2 linked regions of the Homo sapiens genome follow. The protein of the gene in region 1 purifies or fractionates together with the protein of each later gene. This does not show direct contact. Each region holds a gene or a part of one and is shown in the gene's direction. Other genes may lie near its edges. The genes, in order: OGDH and DLAT.

The links.
Region 2: the proteins of OGDH (region 1) and DLAT fractionate together in Homo sapiens (co-fractionation; 2 studies listed by BioGRID). This does not show direct contact.

What each region holds. Positions count from the first base shown.
Region 1 is NC_000007.14:44,600,550-44,611,018, forward strand, and holds the start of OGDH (2-oxoglutarate dehydrogenase complex component E1 isoform 1 precursor), read left to right. Parts: upstream 1-6,077; 5' UTR 6,078-6,104; intron 6,105-10,469. UniProt on the Homo sapiens protein: 2-oxoglutarate dehydrogenase (E1o) component of the 2-oxoglutarate dehydrogenase complex (OGDHC). Participates in the first step, rate limiting for the overall conversion of 2-oxoglutarate to succinyl-CoA and CO(2) catalyzed by the whole OGDHC.
Region 2 is NC_000011.10:112,040,585-112,050,369, forward strand, and holds part of DLAT (dihydrolipoyllysine-residue acetyltransferase component of pyruvate dehydrogenase complex, mitochondrial isoform 2 precursor), read left to right. Parts: intron 1-2,881; coding exon 2,882-2,949; intron 2,950-4,553; coding exon 4,554-4,646; intron 4,647-5,278; coding exon 5,279-5,386; intron 5,387-9,785.

The sequences.
Region 1 (10,469 bases):
GACTGCTTGAGCCCAGAAGTTTGAGACCAGCCTGGGCAACATAATGAGACTCTTGTCTCAAAATAAACTTAAAATAAAATAATAAAATATAGAATAAAATAAAATAGCCAGGTGTGGTGGCATGCATCTGTATTACTAGCTACTTGGGAGGCTGAGGTAGGAGGATCACCTGAGCCCAGTTCAAGGCTGCAGTGAGTTATGATCATGCCACTGTACTCCAGCCTGGGTGACAGGGAGAGACCCTGTCTTAGAAAAAAAAAAAATGAAGTTAGATCCCTACTGCACAGTCACTTATAAAAATTAACTCAAAATGGGTAAACAATCTAAATATGAGCTAAAATCATTACCTCATAGAAGAAACATAAGGGTAAATCTTCATAACCTTAGATTTGGCAATGGATTCTTAGATATGACATAAGCAACATCAAAATTAAAAACTTTCAACCTTTTGTGAGTGGTGGCTAGCACTAAGAGAAGCCAGGAAGGCCTGGGGCACACATCAAGAACACAAGGTGGTGGGGGTGTTGCCTGACCACCCCCAAAAGCTGCACACCAACCCTCTACCCCATGCGAATCTTTGAGCCTCTGGCACTTTGTATCTCAGCTGAAGAAGCCTTCAGTGGAAACTGTCTCCAGTGGGCAGGTGTTGGAGAACCCGCCCTCTTCAGGTGAAGAGTTTGGGCATCTGGCTGCACTATCCTCCAAGTGGCACCCAAAACCTGCACTGGGAACATGGGCCCTGACCTGGTGGACATCACCACCTGGTGACAGAGTGCCAGGCGCATTCCATCCAGATGAGGAAGATGAAGGAGACTGCGTCAGAAAGTGCTGCCAGTCAGCAATCAATTCCACCACTTCACTATCAAGTTCTTTCTGCCCCACCAGTCCTGCCATGCCAGCATGAGCCACACTTTGTTAACAAGAAACCCAATACCTTCTCTAGGTACAGAGTCCTCTCCACCCCCAAGACAGCCCAGATAAACTCCTTAGGAACAACAACAACAAAATTAAAAACTTTTGTTCATCAAAGGACATTGTCAAGAGATAAAGAGAGGCCTGGCACATTTGAGAGGCTGAGGTGGGAGGATCTCTTGAGGCCAGGAGTGCAAGACCAGCCAGGGCAACAAAGCAAGACCCTGTCTCTACAAAAAATAACAATATTGGCCAGGTGCGGTGGCTCACGCCTGTAATCCCAACACTTTGGGAGGCCGAGGAGGGCGGATCACGAGGTGAAGAGATCGAGACCATCCTGGCCAACATGGTGAAACACCGTCTCTACTAAAAATACAAAAATTAGCTGGGTGTGGTGGCACATGCCTGTAGTCCCAGCTACTCAGGAGGCTGAGGCAGGAGAATCGCTTTAACCCAGGAGGCAGAGGTTGCAGTGAGCCAAGATCGCACCACTGCACTCCAGCCTGGTGACAGAACGAGACTCTGTCTCAAAAAAACATAAATATATAAAATAACAATATTAGCTGGGCGTGGTGGTGTGCACCTGTGGTATGGTTCCAGCTACTCAGGAGGCTGAGGCAAGAGGATCACTTGAGCCTAGGAGATCAAGCCTGCGGTGAGCCATGATCACACACCACTGCACTCCAGCCTAGGGAACAGAGTAAGACCCTGTCTCAAAACAAGCAAACAAACAAAAAAAAAGAAATGAAAACCTACAAAATGGGAGAAAATATCTGCAAATCATATATCTGATTAGATTTAATATCCAGAATATATAAAGAACTCCTATAACAACAAGAAAACCCAATTTAAAAATGGGCAAATGACTCAAATGGACAGCTCTCTGAAGAAAATATACAAATGGACAAGCACCACATGAAAATATGCTCAACATCATTAGCCACTAGGGAAATGCAAATCAAAACCACAATGAGCCGTGGTGGCCCACACTTGCAGTCCCAGCCCAGGAGTTCAAGGCTGCAGTGATCTCTGATTGTGCTCATGCACTCCAGACTAGGTGGCAGAGTGAGACTCTACCTCTAAAAAATAATAATACTTTCTAAACCACAATGAGATACCACCTCATACCTATTTATTATAGTTGGCTGTAATAAATTTTTTTTAGAGATGGGGTCTTGCTATGTTGCCCAGCTGATCTTGAACTCCTAGCCTCAAGCAATCCTCCTGACTCAGCCTCCCAAAGTGGTGGGATTACAGGCATAAGCCACTACACCTCACCAAATTTTTTTGGTTGGGGAGTGGGGAGGTGGGGGAACAGGGTCTTGCTCTGTGCCCAGGCTAGAGTTCTGTGGCATGATCATAGCTCACTGCAACCTCAAGCTCCTGGGCTCAAGCAATCCTACTGTCCCAGCGTTCCAAATAGGTAGGACTACAGGCATGTGTCACCACTCCTAATTTTTTTTTTTTGGAGAGACAAAGTCTCACTATGTTGCTCAGGCTGATAATCCTCCTACTTTGGCCTCTGAAAGTGCTGGGATTACAGGAGTGAGGCATCATGACTGACCGATAGTAATTTTTTTAAAAATAGAGACAGTAAAAAAAAAAAATAGAGACAGACCTGTAATCTCAACACTATGGGAGGCTGAGGCAGCAGGATCGCTTGAGGCCAGGACTTCGAGACCAGCCTGGGCAACACAGCAAGATCCTGTCTCTACAAAAAACAGAAAAAATTAGCCTAGCCTGGTTGTGCATGCCCATTGTCCCAGCTACTCAGGAGCGTGAGCTGAGAGGATCACTTGAGCCCCGGAGGTTGAGGCTGCAGTGAGCTGTGATCACACTACTGCACTCCAACCTGACACCTTGTCTCAAAAACAAACAAACAAAAAAGGTGCGGTCACTGTGGGAATTTATCACTTCCTGAAAAAGCTAGACAGAATTCCCATATAACTCAGAAATTACACTCCCAGGTATACAGGCAAAAGAATTATAAACAGGTGTAACCACAGGACCAGTTGAATCTGATTCAGTTTTTTTTTTTTTTTTTTTTTTTGAGATGGAGTTTTGTTCTTCTTGCCCAGGTTGGAGTGCAAAGGAGCGGTTTTGGCTCACTGCAACCTCCGGCTCCCGAGTTCAAACGATTCTCCTGCCTCAGCCTCCCAAGTAGCTGGGATTACAGGCACCCACCACCAGCCTGGCTAATTTTTTTGTATTTTTAGTAGAGATGGGGGTTTCGCCCTGCTGGCCAGGCTGGTCTTGAACTCCTGACCTCGGGTGATCCACCCACCTCAGTCTCCCACAGTGCTGGGATTACAGGTGTGAGCCATTGTGCCCAGCCTGGTTCAACTTTTATCAGTAACAAAATGATGAGTTGTTTTTCAGTTACAATAGATCCCCAGGCTGCAAGTCACGTAACCTAAGTATGCCCAGATGAACAAAGTGTGCCTGATAGCTGACCCTGGTGTCGGTGGGAACACAAAAGTCAACCACAGGCAGGACTTAACCACTCAAATGGAGGAATGGACACCAAATTAGGAAGCATGGGGCGCCTTGTTTTGCTGCAATATGAACTTAAAAGCCAAAGATCCAGCATTGCCCCTTTGCATGACCCAAACAGATCACACCTTGTTGTATTTTCCCATCTCCCTCATAGTTGCCTTCTGCCTATAAAACCTGCCCCCAGATTCCATCTTGGGGAGACAAATTTGAGTATTGCCTCTGGTTTCCCTGCTGGTCGACCTTACGATAAAGCCTTTTCTCAAAAGGTGATGACATAGTATTGGCTTCTATGTGCATCTAGCAGTGAGCCCACTGCTTGGTACCACAATGGGCTCAAACATTTATAAGCCAATGTTCATTGCAACATTATTCAAAACAGCAAAAAAGCAGAAATAACCAAGTGTCCATCAATAGATGAATAAATAAACAAAATGTGGTATATACATACAATGGAATATTATTCAGCCATAAAAAGAAATGAAGTTCTGGCCAGGCATGGGGGCTCATGCCTGTAATCCCAGCACTTTGGGAGGTCGAGGTGGGTGGATCACTTGAGGTCAAGAGTTCAAGACCAGCCTGGCCAACATGGTGAAACCCCATCGCTACTAAAAATACAAAATAAGCTGGGCGTAGTGGCGGGCGCTTATAATCCCAGCTACTTGAGAGGCTGAGGCAGGAGAATTGCTTGAATCTACAAGGCAGAGGTTGCAGTGAGCCGAGATGACACCACTGCACTCCAGCCTGGGCAACAAGAACGAAACACCATCTCAAAAATAAAAAAAGAAAGAAAGAAAAAGAAAAAAATATTAGCCAGGCATGGTGGAGCGTGCCAGTAGTCCCAGCTACTTGGGAGGCTGAGGCATCAGAATCACTTGAACCTGGGTGGCAGAGATTGCAGTGAGCTGAGATGGCACCACTGCCCTCCAGCCTGAAACCGAGGGAGATCCTGTCTCAAAAAAAAAAAAAAGAAATGAAGTTCTGACCCATGCTACAACACAGATAAACCTTGACAACCTCATGCTCAATGAAATAAGGTGGACACAAAAGGACATATACATTATGATTTCACCCACATAAAGTAATTGAGTAATCAAATGTATAGAGACCGTATAATAGAGGTTACCAAAGGAGAGAAGGACAGGAGGAGAAGGGGAAATAGGAAGTTATTGCTTAATGGTTACAGAGTTGCTGTTTCAGGTGATGAAAAAGTTTTGGAAATTGAGTGGTGACGGTTGCATAATATTGTGAATGTAATTAATGCCACTGAGTTATACACCTAAAAATGGTTAAAATGGCATTAAAAAAAAAAAGACAGTATCTTGCTCTCTGGCCCAGGCTGGAGTGCAGTGGTACAATCATAGCTCACTGCAGCCTCAATCTCTCAGGCTCAAGAGATCCTCCTGCCTCAGCCTCCCAATTAGCTGAGACTACAGGTGAGTGCCACTACACCTGGCTAATTTTCTTGATTTTTTAGTAGAAATGAGATCTTGCTCTGTTCCCCAGGCTGATCTGGAACTCCTGAGCTCAAGCGATCCTCCCGCCTCCACCTCCCGAAGTGCTGGGATTACAAGCGTGAGCCACTGCACCCAGCTGCAAATGTTTAGTACATACATTTTTACCGTAATTTATTTAAAAAAAAAAAAGGAAAAAAGAATACAGAAGTTTGTTCCTTGGTCTCTTCACCTCTTCCAGTCTCTAGATCCTTGTCACATACATTACCCTAACTTTGTTCTATAATAAGCACTTATACGCCCCCTTTTTTTGTTTGTTTTTTGAGACGGATTTTCGCTCTTGTTGCCCAGGCTGGAGTGCAATGGCACGATCTCGGCACACCGCAACCTCCGTCTCCCGGGTTCTAGCGACTCTCCTGCCTCAGCCTCCCGAGTAGCTGGGATCGCCACCACGCCCAGCTAATTTTTGTATTTTTAGTAGAGACGGGGTTTCCCCATGTTGGTCAAGCTGGTCTCGAACTCCTGACCTCAAGTGATCCGCCCGCTTCGGCCTCCCAAAGTACTGGGATTACAGGCGTGAGCCACCGCGCCCGGCCTTTCCCCAAATTTTAATACTTTAAAATAGGGAACATCTTACAATCAACAGGTTGTGACAGGTTAATTAGCCACGTTTTATCTTTGATAGGTAGCTCTAAAGTCAAGAAAACCCAGGCAAGATCCCGGGCAAGATCCCAGCACTGCCAACTGTCATTTGTAGACCGGGGATAGGAACACCTGTCTCACAGATTGTTACACAATAGCGCCGGTGAAGCGCTTGTCACAAAGCCTGACCCAGGACAATCTCAAAAACGGAGATTCTGTTATTCAAATTGTTTATTTTTGTGCGCTAAGTTTCACATCAACCCAACTATCTCTTGATAGGTTCCTACCAGGCGCTAGAGATATCTTACTTTCAGAAATTATTTATGATAGCAGAAGCCGCTGGAAGTCCATAGACAACCTCATCTCTCTAGCGGAGCAAACAGCTGGGCTCCAGCTGGCCCTGGCTTCTGCAACTGCGCAGTCGGCGCTGTGACGCCCGGCGCGGCTCTGTGACGTCACGAATCGGTCCTCTGTAAGAGGGGAGGGCATTCTTCTCCAGGGGAGGGCTACGTGTTGACGCCATACGCCGGGGCGGGGCCGAGAGTTTGGAGCCCCGGAGTGGGGTGTCGGCGCCTCATTCGGGTGGAGCTGAGCCGGAGACAGGTAACCGTGCGCTGTCGCCGCGCCCGTCCCAGTGCCGGGTGTCGCGGCGCTTGGCGGCCCGGGGTTGGAGATCGCGGTAAAGGGGGAGGCCGCCGCGCCCTTGGTGCTGCGGGCGCCGCGGTGACAGGGGAGTGGAGCTGGATGGAGTGGGGCTCACGGAGGGTGGTAGGAGGGACGGGACCTGATGGATGGCCGTGGCAGCCAATGGAGCCGCGGGGCCTGCCCGGCGGGCGGAGATTGGCGGGTACGGGCGGGCTCCGAGGTCGCGCGGGGCGCGGAGCGACGCGCCATTGGCGGTGGGCGAGCGGGGGGCGGGCGCGGCGGCGGATGTGAGGGAGAGGGCGGTGCGTCCGCAGGGGTGACCCCCAAGGTCGCCGCGGGCGTCACGTGGTTAGGCCGCTCTCCGACGGCGTCCTTCCCGACCGGGACGCACTCTCCTTCCCGCCTGTGAGGACCGCGTCGCTTTGTCCGAAAGACAGTGTGGCCTGCTCGAGTTGCGTCGGAGCATCTGGCTTTGGGGTGGCCCTGGGTGGGACTGCCTGTTTGGATTACCGCGCAGACCTTGGCGCCGCCCCCACACCTGCTGCCAGAAGTTGGGTCGAACAGATTGACCGAGATGAAGCTTATTTCTCGTAGAAACATCTTTCAAGCACCATTTTCCCTCGAAAATATATCAGACATTGGATATGAGTTGTAATCTACTGAGATTTAATAGAAAACTTGCCGCGCCCTCGCCCTGACCTGGGTGCGTCCCACCTGCCATCCCCATCCCTTTGCCCAGAACATAGGACTTCGTGTTAGGGTTTCCTTGTGCCTTGTCTTGCAGTCCGTACTTTGAGGCTGATTTCCAGGTACACTGCTCTGAACAGCTGGGTTTAGGATGGGTGGCATGGGATAAAGCCTTTTTTTGTAAGGCAGCACTAGTTGCAACAGTCAAACTGTACTTTGCCGTGTAGACCTAGGAGAGTATGTAACACTATTGTAGTTTTGTAAATTAGCTGAGGACTGGATCTTGGGAAGTTGAATAAAGATCACTGTATGCTCATTTTTTGTTGTTGTTGTCTTGTTTGAGATGGAGTCTCTGTCGCCCAGGCTGGAGTGCTGTGGCGCGATCTCGGCTCACTGCAACCTCTGCCTTCCTGGGTTCAAGTGATTCTCCTGCCTCAGCCTCCCAAGTAGCTGATATTACAGGCACGCGCCATCACGCCCGGCTAATTTTTGTATTTTTAGTAGAGACGGGTTTTCACCACCTTGGCCAGGCTATTCTCGAACTCCTGACCTCAGGTGATCCGCCCGCCTCGGCCCCCAAAGTGCTGGGATTACAGGCGTGAGCCACTGCGCCCGGCCCCTCATTATTTTTTTTAAGCGCACTTTTCACATTTCAGTTACTTTTTCCCTTTAAATAACATCTTTATTGAGATAAAATTCACATACCATACGATTCACCCATTTGACGTGCACAATTTCGGCCAGTCGTGGTGGCTCACGTTTGTAATCCCCACACTTTGGGAGTGTGAAAGGAAGATCCCTTGAGCTCAGTTCAAGGAGACCAGCCTGAGCAACCAAAGTGATACCCGGCGTCTACAAAAAATAAAATTATCCGGATATGGTGGCATATACCACATATACTTGTAGTCGCAACTACTCAGGAGGCTGAGGCGGGAGGATGGCATGAGCCAGGGAGGTCCAAGCTGCAGTGAGCCATTATTGCCCCACTGCACTCTAGCCTGGGTGACACAGTGAGATCCTGTCTCAAAAAAAAAGGCCGGGCGCAGTGGCTCACGCCTGTAATCCTAGCACTTTGGGAGGCCGAGGTGGGTGGATCCCCTGAGGTTGGGAGTTTGAGACCAGCCTGGCCAACATGGTGAAACCCTGTCTCTACTAAAAATACAAAAGTTAGCAGGGCATGGTGGCGTGGGCCTGTAGTCTCAGCTACAGGCTGAGCTCCTCCAGCCTCAGCAGGAGGCTGAGGCAGGAGAATCGCTTGAACGCAGGAGGCAGAGGTTGCAGCGAGTCGAGATGGCGCCACGGCACTACAGCCTGAGCGACAGAGCAAGACTCCATCTCAAAAAAAAAAGGAAAGAAAAAACTACAGTATCATCTACTTTTTAGATTTTTAGGTAATTTTTGAGATCATTGTACAAATTATTGAGAAATTCATTTTGAAAACAGTAAAATTTTAAGAAATTGTACATAAAAATTTATTCTATGCAGTCATAATAAATAGTACAGAGAGATCCTGTGTTCCTTTCCCACTTCTCTAACATTGTGCAAAACTATAGTAAATATCACAGCCAGATATTGACATTAATAAAATTCAAGATACAGAATATTCCCGTCATCACAAGGATCCCTTCCATTGCTTTTTTATAGCCACACCCACATTCCTCCCATTCCCAGTCCTTCAACTCCTGGTAACCACTAATCTGTTCTTCATTTCCCTAATTTTGGCATGTCAAGAATGCCAAATAAAAGGATTCATAGAGCCTTTTGGGATTGGTTTTTTCCAGTCAGCTTAATTCCCTGGAGAATCATCCAGGTTGTTGCGTGTTATGGGTAGTTCATTCCTTGGCCAGGCGCAGTGGCTTACGCCTGTAATCCTAGCAACTTTGGGAGGCTGAGGCAGGCAGATCGCTTGAGCCCCAGGAGTTCGAGTCTGAGGAACATAGTGAGACCTCGTCTCTACAAAAAAAAAAAAAAAAAAAAATTAGCCAGGCGCAGTGGTGTGTTCCTGTAATCCCAGCTACTCAGGAAGCTGAGGTGGGAGGATCGCTTGAGCCTAGGCTGTGGTGGCTGCGGTGAGCCGAGATCGCGCCACTGCACTCCAGCATGAGTGACAGAGTGAGACCCTGTCTCAAAAAAAAAAAAAAAAAGGTACTTCATTCCTTTTTATTGAAGCCGGGCTATTGGGCTATGGATGTACCACATTTGGTTTATTCATCCATTAAAAGACATCTTTACTGTTTCCATTCTTTGGCTATTACAAATAAAGCTGCTACAAACCTTCATGTACAGATTTTTATTTGAACATAAATTGACATTTCTCCAAGATAAATGCCCAGGAATACAATCACTAAGTCGTAGTGCGTGCTTAGTTATTAAACAAATAGCCAAACTGTTTTCCAGAGTGATTGTACTATTTTACATTCCCACCGGCACTGTATGGTCTTGTTTCTCCACATACTTGCCAGCATTTGGTGATGTTACTTTTTTTATTATAGCCATTCCAATAAATGTGTAGTAATGTCTCTTTGTGGTTGTAATTTGCATTTTTCTGATGGCTAATGATGTTGAACATCTTTTCATGTGCTTATTTGCCATCTGTCTATTCTCTCTTTTTTTGGAAGAGATGGGATCTTGCTATGTTGCCCAGGCTGGTCTTGAACTCCTGGGATCAAGTGATCCTCCTGTCTTAGCCTCCCAAAGGCTAGGATTTCAGGCATGAGCCACCATGCCTGGCCCCTGTATACTCTCGGGTGAAATGTCTGTTCATATCTTTTGTTCATTTCGTAATTAGATTGTTCGGTTTTTGTTAACTGTTGAGCTTTGAGAATTCCTAATGTATTCTAGATACCACTGCTTTGTTGGATATGTAGTTTGCAGATATTTTCTCCTAGTCAGCAGCATGTCTTTTCATCTTGGTTTTTTTTTTGTTTGTTTGTTTGTTTTGTTTTTGAGATGGAGTCTCGTTCTGTCCCCCAGGCTGGAGTGCAGTGGCGTAATCTCTACAACCTCTGCCTCCCAGGTTCAAGCGATTCTTCCGCCTCAGCCTCCTGAGTAGCTGGGATTACAGGCGCTTGCCACCACACCTGGCTAATTTTTGTATTTTTAGTAGAGACGGGGTTTCACCGTGTTGGTCAGGCTGGTCTCGAACTCCTGACCTCGCGATCTGTCCACCTCAGCCTCCCAGAGTGCTGGGATTACAGGCGTGAGCCACTGCTCCTAGCCCTTTTCATCTTTTTGTTTGTTTGTTTGTTTGAGACGGAGTCTTGCTCTGTTGCCCAGGCTGGAGTGCAGTGGTGCAATCTTGGCTCACTGCAACCTCCACCTCCCCGGTTCAAGCCTTTCTCAGCCTCCCAAGTAGCTGGGACTACAGCCGCGTGCCACCACGCCCGGCTAATTCTTTTGTATTTTTAGTAGAGACGGGCTTTTACTGTGTTAGCCAGGATGGTCTGGATCTCCTGACCTCGTGATCGACACCCCCTTGGCCTCCCAAAGTGCTGGGATTACAGGCGTGAGCCACCGCGCTCAGCCCCTTTTCATCTTCTTAACGGGGTCTTTTGCAAAGCAAAAGTTTATAATTTTGATGAGGTCTGGTTTACCAATTTTATCTTTTGTTAGATTGCTTTTGGTGTTGAGTTGAAG
Region 2 (9,785 bases), on another chromosome or scaffold:
TATCTTGTAGTTAGAAGTCAAGCCAATCCCAAGACACAAGAGTAGAATGTTGTAAATTTTTTGGACCTCAGAGATTCTTGTAATATTGGAAGATTCTTTTTTTTCCATCTTAATGCCATTTCAGTAGTATATTGCTATCATATATGTATATATGATTAGAATCAGGGACAGCAGTGTAAGTTGGAGTAACTTTTAAAGGGAGAAAGGACTGGGTTAATAATTATATCTAAAGAATTTAGACAAGCAAAGAAGGACCATTTATTAGATATTCAGCAATACTCGTTACCTTACTAAAGATATAAGTGGAAAATCCCTTAGGTATGAGCTGAGAGGAGTGTTAAAAAAAAAAAAGAAAGAAAGAAAATCCCACTGTTCTTACTATGCAGGCAGAGTTAGGTGATAAATATCATCGACTGCTATCTACACATCAGACACTTGTTCATCAGATGGATAAGATTTCAGTTTCAGTTGCTTATATGACCAACAATAAAGAATTAAATGAACAGAAAGGGAGTATAGCATAGTAGTTAAGAGTGTGAGCTCTGTAGCTGGAATGCTTGGGTATGAACCTCAGCTCTTTATACTAGCTGTGTGACCTTTTGTGTCACAATTTCTTTGTATATAAAAACATTAGGTTTAATGGTTGTGAGGTTTAAATAAGTTAACCAGTGCCTGTACAGAGAAAGCATATCTAGGTATTAGCTATAATGATAATAATATTTTTGTTATTAAATAAGATGATTTGAGTGCTAAGAAAGAAAGAAACTCAGTGATATACTAGTGAGTGAAAGGGTGAATGGATATATGTGCAGTCATGACTACTTTTAGACAGGTTGGTTGGGAGATCTTTTTGATGAGGTGACATTTGATTTGTTTTGAAAGATAAGAAGGAGGCAGCTTGAGCCAACCATGTGAAGAACTGGGGAAAGATCATTTTGGATAGAGAGACTAGCTGTACACAGTCTGAAATGGGAAAGAGTTTAGCATGTCTGAGGAACATAAAAGAGGCCAGTGTTGGCCAGGCGCAATGGCTCACGCCTGTAATCCCAGCACTTTGGGAGGCCGAGGCAGGTGGATCACAGGTCAGGAGATGGAGACCATCCTGGCTAACACGGTGAAACCTCGTCTCTACTAAAAATACAAAAAAATTAGCTGGGCATGGTGGCAGGCGCCTGTGGTCCCAGCTACTCGGGAGGCTGAGGCAGGAGAATGGCGTGAACCTGGGAGGCCAAACTTGCAGTGAGCCGAGATAGTGCCACTGCACTCCAGCCTGGGCGACAGAGCAAGACTCCGTCTCAAAGAAAAAAAAAAAAGGCCAGTGTTAATGAAGCATAATGAGCAAAGGGTCTAGTAGGAGATGAGATTGGAAAAAAACAGGGATGAGAACATAAATGACCTTATAGATTATGGTAAAGAGTTTGAATTTTATTTAAAGTACTTGAGGAAGCCATTGAGAAATTTAAGCAAAGAAGTGAAATAAAATGATTATGTTTTGAAAAGATCATTTTGGTTGCTCCATGGAAATGGATGAAACGTTTATATAGTTTATGTTTGACAAGATCCCTACTTTTTGTTACCCATAGTCCAGTGTTGTTCCCTTTATACCATATTGCTTTATGATGGCCTGTTGTGCCGCCCAAGAGAGATAGGGAAAAGGGTTTACAAGGTTTCAACTAACTCCTAAGTCAGGAAATTCTTGTGGGTGGCTGAAGCTTAGCATAAGGCAGGTGGTACTATGGATTTCCTCCTCTTGAGGGACTGTGGTGTCTAGATCAGCCTTGGTTGTAAGGGGAGGTTATGGTTTCTGTCTTTTACAAAGGAGAGAAATCTAATAGGGGTACTACCACCTCTGTTCTAGAGCTCCTAGTGAGGATAAATACAATCCTAGCCAACTCAGTTTTCGTAATGAAGGAAAGGAATTGGGAAGAACTACACACAACAAGAGTCCTTTTTAAAGTCTGCCTTGGGGGAAGATGAATCAGTTTGACCAAATTTTTCCTAGAAGTGGGCCAGTGTAAAAGGTATTCTATAATAATAACTAAATTCTGAATCTCCGTAGAATTAAAGGTCAAGATTATCTACTTGGGTCCAAAATTAAACCTAAGAGGCTGTAGGTGGGAGGAGGGAGGAAATTGAATATAAGTAAAATTAAACCTACTGAGAGAACTTTGAAGATCCTTCCTCATGTGTGACATTGCACCTTTTTCCTTCATTTCCTTTAACACGGGCCAGTTTAGAGCCTTGGCTACTGTGAAAAAGCTATGAGTCATAGAGACCACATAAGGAATGAATGATTCTAAAGATAAGATAATTGCAGTAAAGAGTTATTCGTGCTATTTTGGGGTGAAAAAATCGACTTGATTTGTCAAAACAATTATTGTTATACCTGTAAATTCTGTATAAAAGGAATTCTTTATGGTCACATAAATCCAGAACCCAAATGAAATCTATTTCACGGCTTAGGAATGGTTTTTTGGAGCTAACCAGGAGGAGGCAGCTAGTTTCCCTTTTGGAGATATAAACTGTGCTCGGCATTATCCTTATGCCACATTTCCCAATTTAAAAGTAAGGAAGATGAAAAAAATTAAGTACAACTTGGATAAAACTCTAAAAGAGAAATACATAAAGGAATATTTGCAGTAGTTAAAAAGAAAAGACCCACTCCAGATCACACACTGGTACTCTGTGTGGATTAAAATTAATAGTTGACAAAAGCTGGTATTTGTAGGTAGCACCTTAAGGGGTAGGGTTAAGGCTGTGAACCTTTCAGAATGTTTTTGGTAGTAAACCCTTAGGAGCTTGCAGTTTAGGATCACAGCGTTGATCTCCTTGGGGAACCAATGGTATGTCATCATGTATGTGATATTTATGTCTCTTACAGGGACAGGACCAGATGGTAGAATCACCAAGAAGGATATCGACTCTTTTGTGCCTAGTAAAGTTGCTCCTGTGAGTTATGTGTAGCTCTTACTTTTTTTGCAGTTTGTCTCTACAGCCTGTTAGACCATTTCATACATTATTTATGAACGAAATAGCTCAACCAAGATTGTTTTCTTCTAATTTCAGTGGTTTAATAATACAGTCATCCCTCGGTACCCATGAGAGGTTGGTTCCAGGAGCCCCCTTGTATACCAAAATTCGCAAATGCTTAAGTCTCTTATATAAAATAGTGTAGTATTTGTATATAACTTACCCACATCCTCTCAAATACTTTAAATCATCTCTAGATTACTTATAATATTAAATACAAGGTAAATACTATGTAAATAGTTGTTATATTTTATTGCTTAGGAAATAATAATAAGGACAAAAAGTCTGTACTTGTGCAGTTCAGATGCAACCATCTGTTTTTTTCTGGAATATTTTTGATTTGCCTTTGGTTGAATCCAGTGATGCAGAACTTATGGATATGGAGGGCCAAGTGTATTTAGATATTTGTGTGCTATCATTTATATACAAGATCAAAGATGATATACTACATTGACATGTATTCCACATTATGTTTTGAGCTAGTTAATCGGTTTTTGCTTTGAAATAAAAGATTTGTTCTTTTTTTCTTTTTCAAAATATTTTAAAGTACAGTTGAATGAGTTGTTTTTGGTGTTTGGTTTTTTTTGTTTGTTTGTTTTTGAGACAGTCTCACTCTGTCGCCCAGGCTGGAGTGCAGTGGCGCGATCTTGGCTCATTGCAACCTCTGCCTCCTGGATTCAGGCGATTCTCATGCCCCAGCCTCCCAGGTGGCTGGGACTACAGGTGCATGCCATCACACCTGGCTAATTTTCGTATGTTTAGTAGAGACAGGGTTTCGCCATGTTGGCCAGCCTGGTCACGAACTCCTGGCCTCAAGTGAGTCATTGTGAGGCTCAAGTGAGCCTCCCAACCCCCTTTTCTTAACATTGTTTAGGATAATGGATTAGCTTGTTTATACTTATTTATTATTCCTTGCAACTTAAGAATGCTTCCATTGCTTTTCTTGAACATAATTTTGCAAAAACAAAATTATTTTGACACAAACTGGTCATTGAACATACTCTGATACAAAGAAAAATGACACTTAAAACATGACTTCAGAATTCTAAGTAAAAAAATTAAAACTCTTAAAACAAGCAGAAGTCTCTTTTGCTCACTGGGGACAGAAATAGGTATTCTATAAAGCTTAGTTTTTAGACTGGACATGGTGGCTCATGCTTGTAACCCCAGCACTTTGGGAAGCCAAGGTGGGTGGATCACTTGAGCCCAGGCATTTGAGACCAGCCAGGGCAACGTGGCTAATTTCCGTCTCTACTAGAAATCCAAAAAAATTAGCTGGGCATGTTGGCGTGCACCTGTAGTCCCAGCTACTCTAGGGGCTGAGATGGGAGGATTGCTTGAGCCCAGGAGGTTGAGGCTGCAGTGAACCATGATTGAGCCACTGCATTCTAGCCTGGGTGACAGAGCAAGACTCTGTCTCAAAAGACAAAAAAAAAAAACTGCATAGTCACTGGCAGTCTTTCCCAGGTACTTACGCTAAGATTGAATCACAGTTACTAAGAGCTTTTTCTTTCCTCCCATAGGCTCCGGCAGCTGTTGTGCCTCCCACAGGTCCTGGAATGGCACCAGTTCCTACAGGTGTCTTCACAGATATCCCAATCAGCAACATTCGTCGGGTAAGAGAATTACCATCATCTGGAATCAGCTGTTAGGGGCATCTTTAGGTTGTTTAGTTGCTTCCATAGTTTTTAACACATTAACAGAGGCTTTTTAAGTTGGGAATATTGGATGATTACTTTAAGGGAAGTTTTGGCCAACTGAATACTTGAATCACTTTGTTCCTATTAGAAGGGCCAGGCGCAGTAGCTCATGCCTGTAATCCCAGCACTTTGGGAGGCCAAAGCGGGCAGATCACAAGGTCCAGACTTCGAGACCAGCCTGGCCAACATAGTGAAACACCCCGTCTCTACTAAAGATACAAAAATTAGCCGGGCATGGTGGCACATGCCTGTAGTCCCAAGTACTCGGGACGCTGAGGCAGGAGAATTGCTTGAACTTGGGAAATGGAGGTTGTGGTGAGCCGAGATCGCACCACCGCACTCCAGCCTGGGCAACATAGCGAGACTCCATCTCAAAAAAAAAAAAAAATCTAGGAGGTGTTATATTATGGCGGAGTCCTCCATCTTTCAATTATAATAATGCTTGAGGTAAGTATTAGCAGAGAGTAAGGTGAAGAGACAAACAGAGCCCTAAATTAGTTAAGGTCTTAACTCAAGATAATTGATTTTTTAAATCTCTTTGGTTTCAGGTTATTGCACAGCGATTAATGCAATCAAAGCAAACCATACCTCATTATTACCTTTCTATCGATGTAAATATGGGAGAAGTTTTGTTGGTACGGAAAGAACTTAATAAGGTAAAAGTTCTGAAAATTCCAACTTTCTAAGTTATAAAAATTTTGTCTTTCCCCACCAAACATTTATATTTTTGTCCATATATTTTGTTACAATATATCAGTTGGTGGTTACTTTCTTGATCTTGTCCTTTGAAGCACAAGATTTTAAATATTGGTTATGTCCACTTTTATCAATTTTTTTCTTCTGTGCTTTTGGTATTATATCTAAGAAACTATTACCTAGTCTAAGGTCATGAAGATTTATACTTTTGTTTCCTTGTAACAGTTTTATACTTTTAGTTCTTATATTCAGGTCTTTGCTCTATTTTGAGTTAATTTTTTATAGGTGGTGTGAGATAGGAATCCAACCATTGTTTTGCATGTGGACATTTATTCTTTCATCCCAGCACCATCTTTCCCCATCGAATTGTCTTGGTATCCTTGTCAAAATTAATCATATATGTGAGAATTTTATTTCCAGATTTTTTTTTTTTTGTAGATCTTGTTATTTTTTGTTTTGTTTTGTTTTATTATACTTTAAGTTCTGGGATACATGTGCAGAACGTGCAGGTTTGTTACATAGGTATACACGTGCCATGGTGGTTTGCTGCACCCACCAACCCATCATCTACATTAGGTATTTCTCCTAATGCTATCCCTCCCCTTAGCCCCCCACCCCCCTACAGGTCCTGGTGTGTGATGTTTCCCTCCCTGTGTCCATGTGTTCTCATTGTTCAACTCCCACTTACAAGTGAGAACATGCGGTGTTTGGTTTTCTGTTCCTGTGTTAGTTTGCTGAGAATGATGGTTTCCAGCTTCATCCATGTCCCTGCAAAGGACACAAACTCATCCTTTTTTTTATGGCTGCATAGTATTCCATGGTGTGTATGTGCCACATTTTCTTTATCCAGTCTATCATTGATGGGCATTTGGCTTGGTTCCAAGTCTTTGCTATTGGGAACAGTGCTGCAGTAAACATATGTGTGCATGTGTCTTTATAGTAGAATGGTTTATAATCCTTTGGGTCTATACCCAGTAATGGGATTTCTGGGTCAAATGGTATTTCTGGTTCTAGATCCTTGAGGAACCGCCACACTGTCTTCCACAATGGGTTGAACTAATTTACACTCCTACCAACAGTGTAAAAGCGTTCCTATTTCTCCACATTCCAGCATCTGTTGTTTCCTGACTTTTTAGTGATCGCCATTGTAACTGGCGTGAGATGGTAACTCACTGTGGTTTTGATTTGCATTTCTTTAATGACCAGTGATGATGAGCTTTTTTTCATGTTTGTTGGCCACATAAATGTCTTCTTTTGAGAAGTGTCTGTTCATATCCTTTGCCCACTTTTTGATGGGGTCATTTGTTTTTTTCTTGTAAATTTGTTTAAGTTCCTTATAGATTCTGGATATTAGCCCTTTGTTAGATGGATAGATTTCAAAAATTTTCTCCCATTCTGTAGGTTGCCTGTTCACTCTGATGATAGTTTCTTTTGCTGTGCAGAAGCTCTTTAGTTTAATTCGACCCCATTTGTCTATTTTGGCTTTTGTTGCCATTGCTTTTGTTGTTTTAGTCATGAAGTCTTTGCCCATGCCTGTGTCCTGAATGGTATTGCCTAGGTTTTCTTCTAGGGTTTTTATGGTTTTAGGTCTTACGTTTAAGTCTTTAATCCATCTTCAGTTATTTTTTGTATAAGGTGTAAGGAAGGAGTCCAGTTTCAGTTTTCTACATATGGCTAGCCAGTTTTCCCAACATCATTGATTAAATAGGGAATCCTTTCCCCATTGCTTGTTGTTGTCAGGTTTGTCAAAAATCAGATGGTTGTAAATGTGTGGCATTATGTCTGAGGCTTCTGTTCTGTTCCATTGGTCTATATATCTGTTTTGGTACCAGTACCATGCTGTTTTGGTTACTGTAGCCTTATAGTATAGTTTGAAGTCAGGTAGCATGATGCCTCCAGCTTTGTTCTTTTTGCTTAGGATTGTCTTGGCTATACGGGCCCTTTTTTGGTTCCATATGAAATTTAAAGTAGTTTTTTTCTAATTCTGTGAAGAAAGTCAATGGTTGCTTGATGAAGATAGCATTGAATTTATAAATTACTTTGGGCAGTATGTCCATTTTCACGATATTGATTCTTCCTATGCATGAGCATGGAATGCTTTTCCATTTGTTTTTGTGTCCTCTCTTATTTCCTTGAGCAGTGGTTTGTAGTTCTCCTTGAAGAGGTCCTTCACATCCCTTGTAAGTTGTATTCCTAGGTATTCTATTCTTTTTATAGCAATTGTGAATAGGAATTCACTCACAATTTGGCTCTCTGTTTGTCTGTTATTGGCGTGTAGGAATGCTTGTGATTTTTGCACATTGATTTTGTATCCTGAGACTTCACTGAAGTTGCTTATCAGCTTAAGGAGATTTTGGACTGAGATGATGGGGTTTTCTAACTATACAATCATGTCATCTACAAACAGACAATTTGACTTCCTCTTTTTCTATTTGAATACTCTTTATTTCTTTCTCTTGCCTGATTGCCCTGGCCAGAACTTCCAATACTATGCTGAATAGGAGTGGTGAGAGAGAGCATCCTTGTCATGTGCCAATTTTTGAGACTGAGTCTCACTCTGTTGCCCAGACTGGGGTGCAGTGGCGTGATCTTGGCTTACTGCAACCTCCACCTTCCAGGTTCAAGCAATTCTCGTCCCTCAGCCTCCCGAGTAGCTGGGATTACAGGTATGAGCCACCAGGCATGGCTAATTTTTGTATTTTTAGTAGGGACAGGATTTCACCATGTTGGCCAGGCTGGTCTCGAACTCTTGACCTCAAATGATCCACCCACCTTGGCCTCCCAAAGTGCTGGAATTACAGCCATGAGCCCCCATGCCTGGCCTATTTCCAGGTTCTTAATTCCATTCCATTAATCTCTGTATACCCTTAATGTCAGTACCACAGTCTTGATTACTTTAGCTTTGTAATAAGTTGTAAAATCAGGAAACGTGAGTCATCTTTGTTCTTTTTTCTCAAGATTTTTTTTTTTTTTTTTTTTTTTTTTTAAAGACAGAGTCTTGCTCTGTCACCCAGGCTAGAGTGCAGTGGCGTGATCTTGGCTCACTGCCAGCTCTGCCTCCCGGGTTCATGCCATTCTCCTGCCTCAGCCTCCCAAGTAGCTGGGACTACAGACGCCCACCACCATGCCCGGCTAATTTTTTGTATTTTTAGTAGAGACGGGGTTTCACCGTGTTAGCCAGAATCAAGATTGTTTTGTCTGAGTCCCTTGCAATTCTAAGTGAATTTTAGGATTAGCTTGTAAATTTCTGCATTGAAGCCAGTTGACATTTTGATAAGGATTGATTGGATGTATCTGCTGATCAGTTTGGCAAGTGTTGCCATCCGAAGAATATAGTCTTTTCATCCATGAACATGTAGATGCCCCTGTATTAGTTAGGTGTTCTTCAGTCTCTTTCAACAGTTTTTTTATAGTTTTTCAGAGTGTAAGTTTTGCACTCTAAATTTGCATTTGTTAAACTTATTTCTAGGTATTTTATTCTTTTTGATACTACTCTAAGTGGAATTGTTTTCTAGATTTCATTTTCAGATTGTTCATTGCTACTATATAAAGGTATGATTGATTTTTTTTTTTTTTTAAGACTAGTCAGGTATACTAGTGAGAAGGGCGGAAGAGTAGAAAAGAAGTTAGATTTATAATGGACTCTGAGCAATCAATTGAGATAACAATTCATTTTTCTATATTGATCTTTTTTTTCATATACCTGCTGAAATGGGATCTATATTGACCTTGTATCCTGCAAACTTGCTGAAGTCATTTATTAGTTCTTACAGTTTTTTAGTGTATTTCTTAGGTTTTTCTGTAAACAAGATAATGTTATCTGCAAATAGAGATAATTTTACTTTTTTCATTTTGACCTGTATGCCTTTTATTTCCTTTCTTGCCTAATTGCTCTGGCTGGCGCCTCTAGGCAATGTTGAATAGGTGTAGCAGAAGTGAACATCTTGTCTTGTTCTCGATCTTTGGGAGAATAAGTCTTTGGTCATTAAATAGTTGTGAGGTTTCCATAGATCAGGTTGAGCAAGTTCCCTCCTGTTCCCAGTTAGTAAGAGTGTTTTGATCATGAAAAGGGGTATTGAATTTTATCAAATGCTCTTTCTGTGTCTGTTGAGATGATTATGTGTTTTTTGTCCTGTATTCTGTTAGGACATTATTACATTAATGGATTTTCAGATGTTAATGGAAATTTGCATTCTTGGGATAAATCAGATTTGATCATGGTGAATGATCCTTTTTATATATTGCTGGATTTTATTTGCTAGCGTTTTGTTGAAGATTTTTACATCTATATTCATAAGATATTAGTGTGTACTTTTTTTTTTTTTTCTTCTAATGTCGTCTTTGGTTTTGGTATCAGGC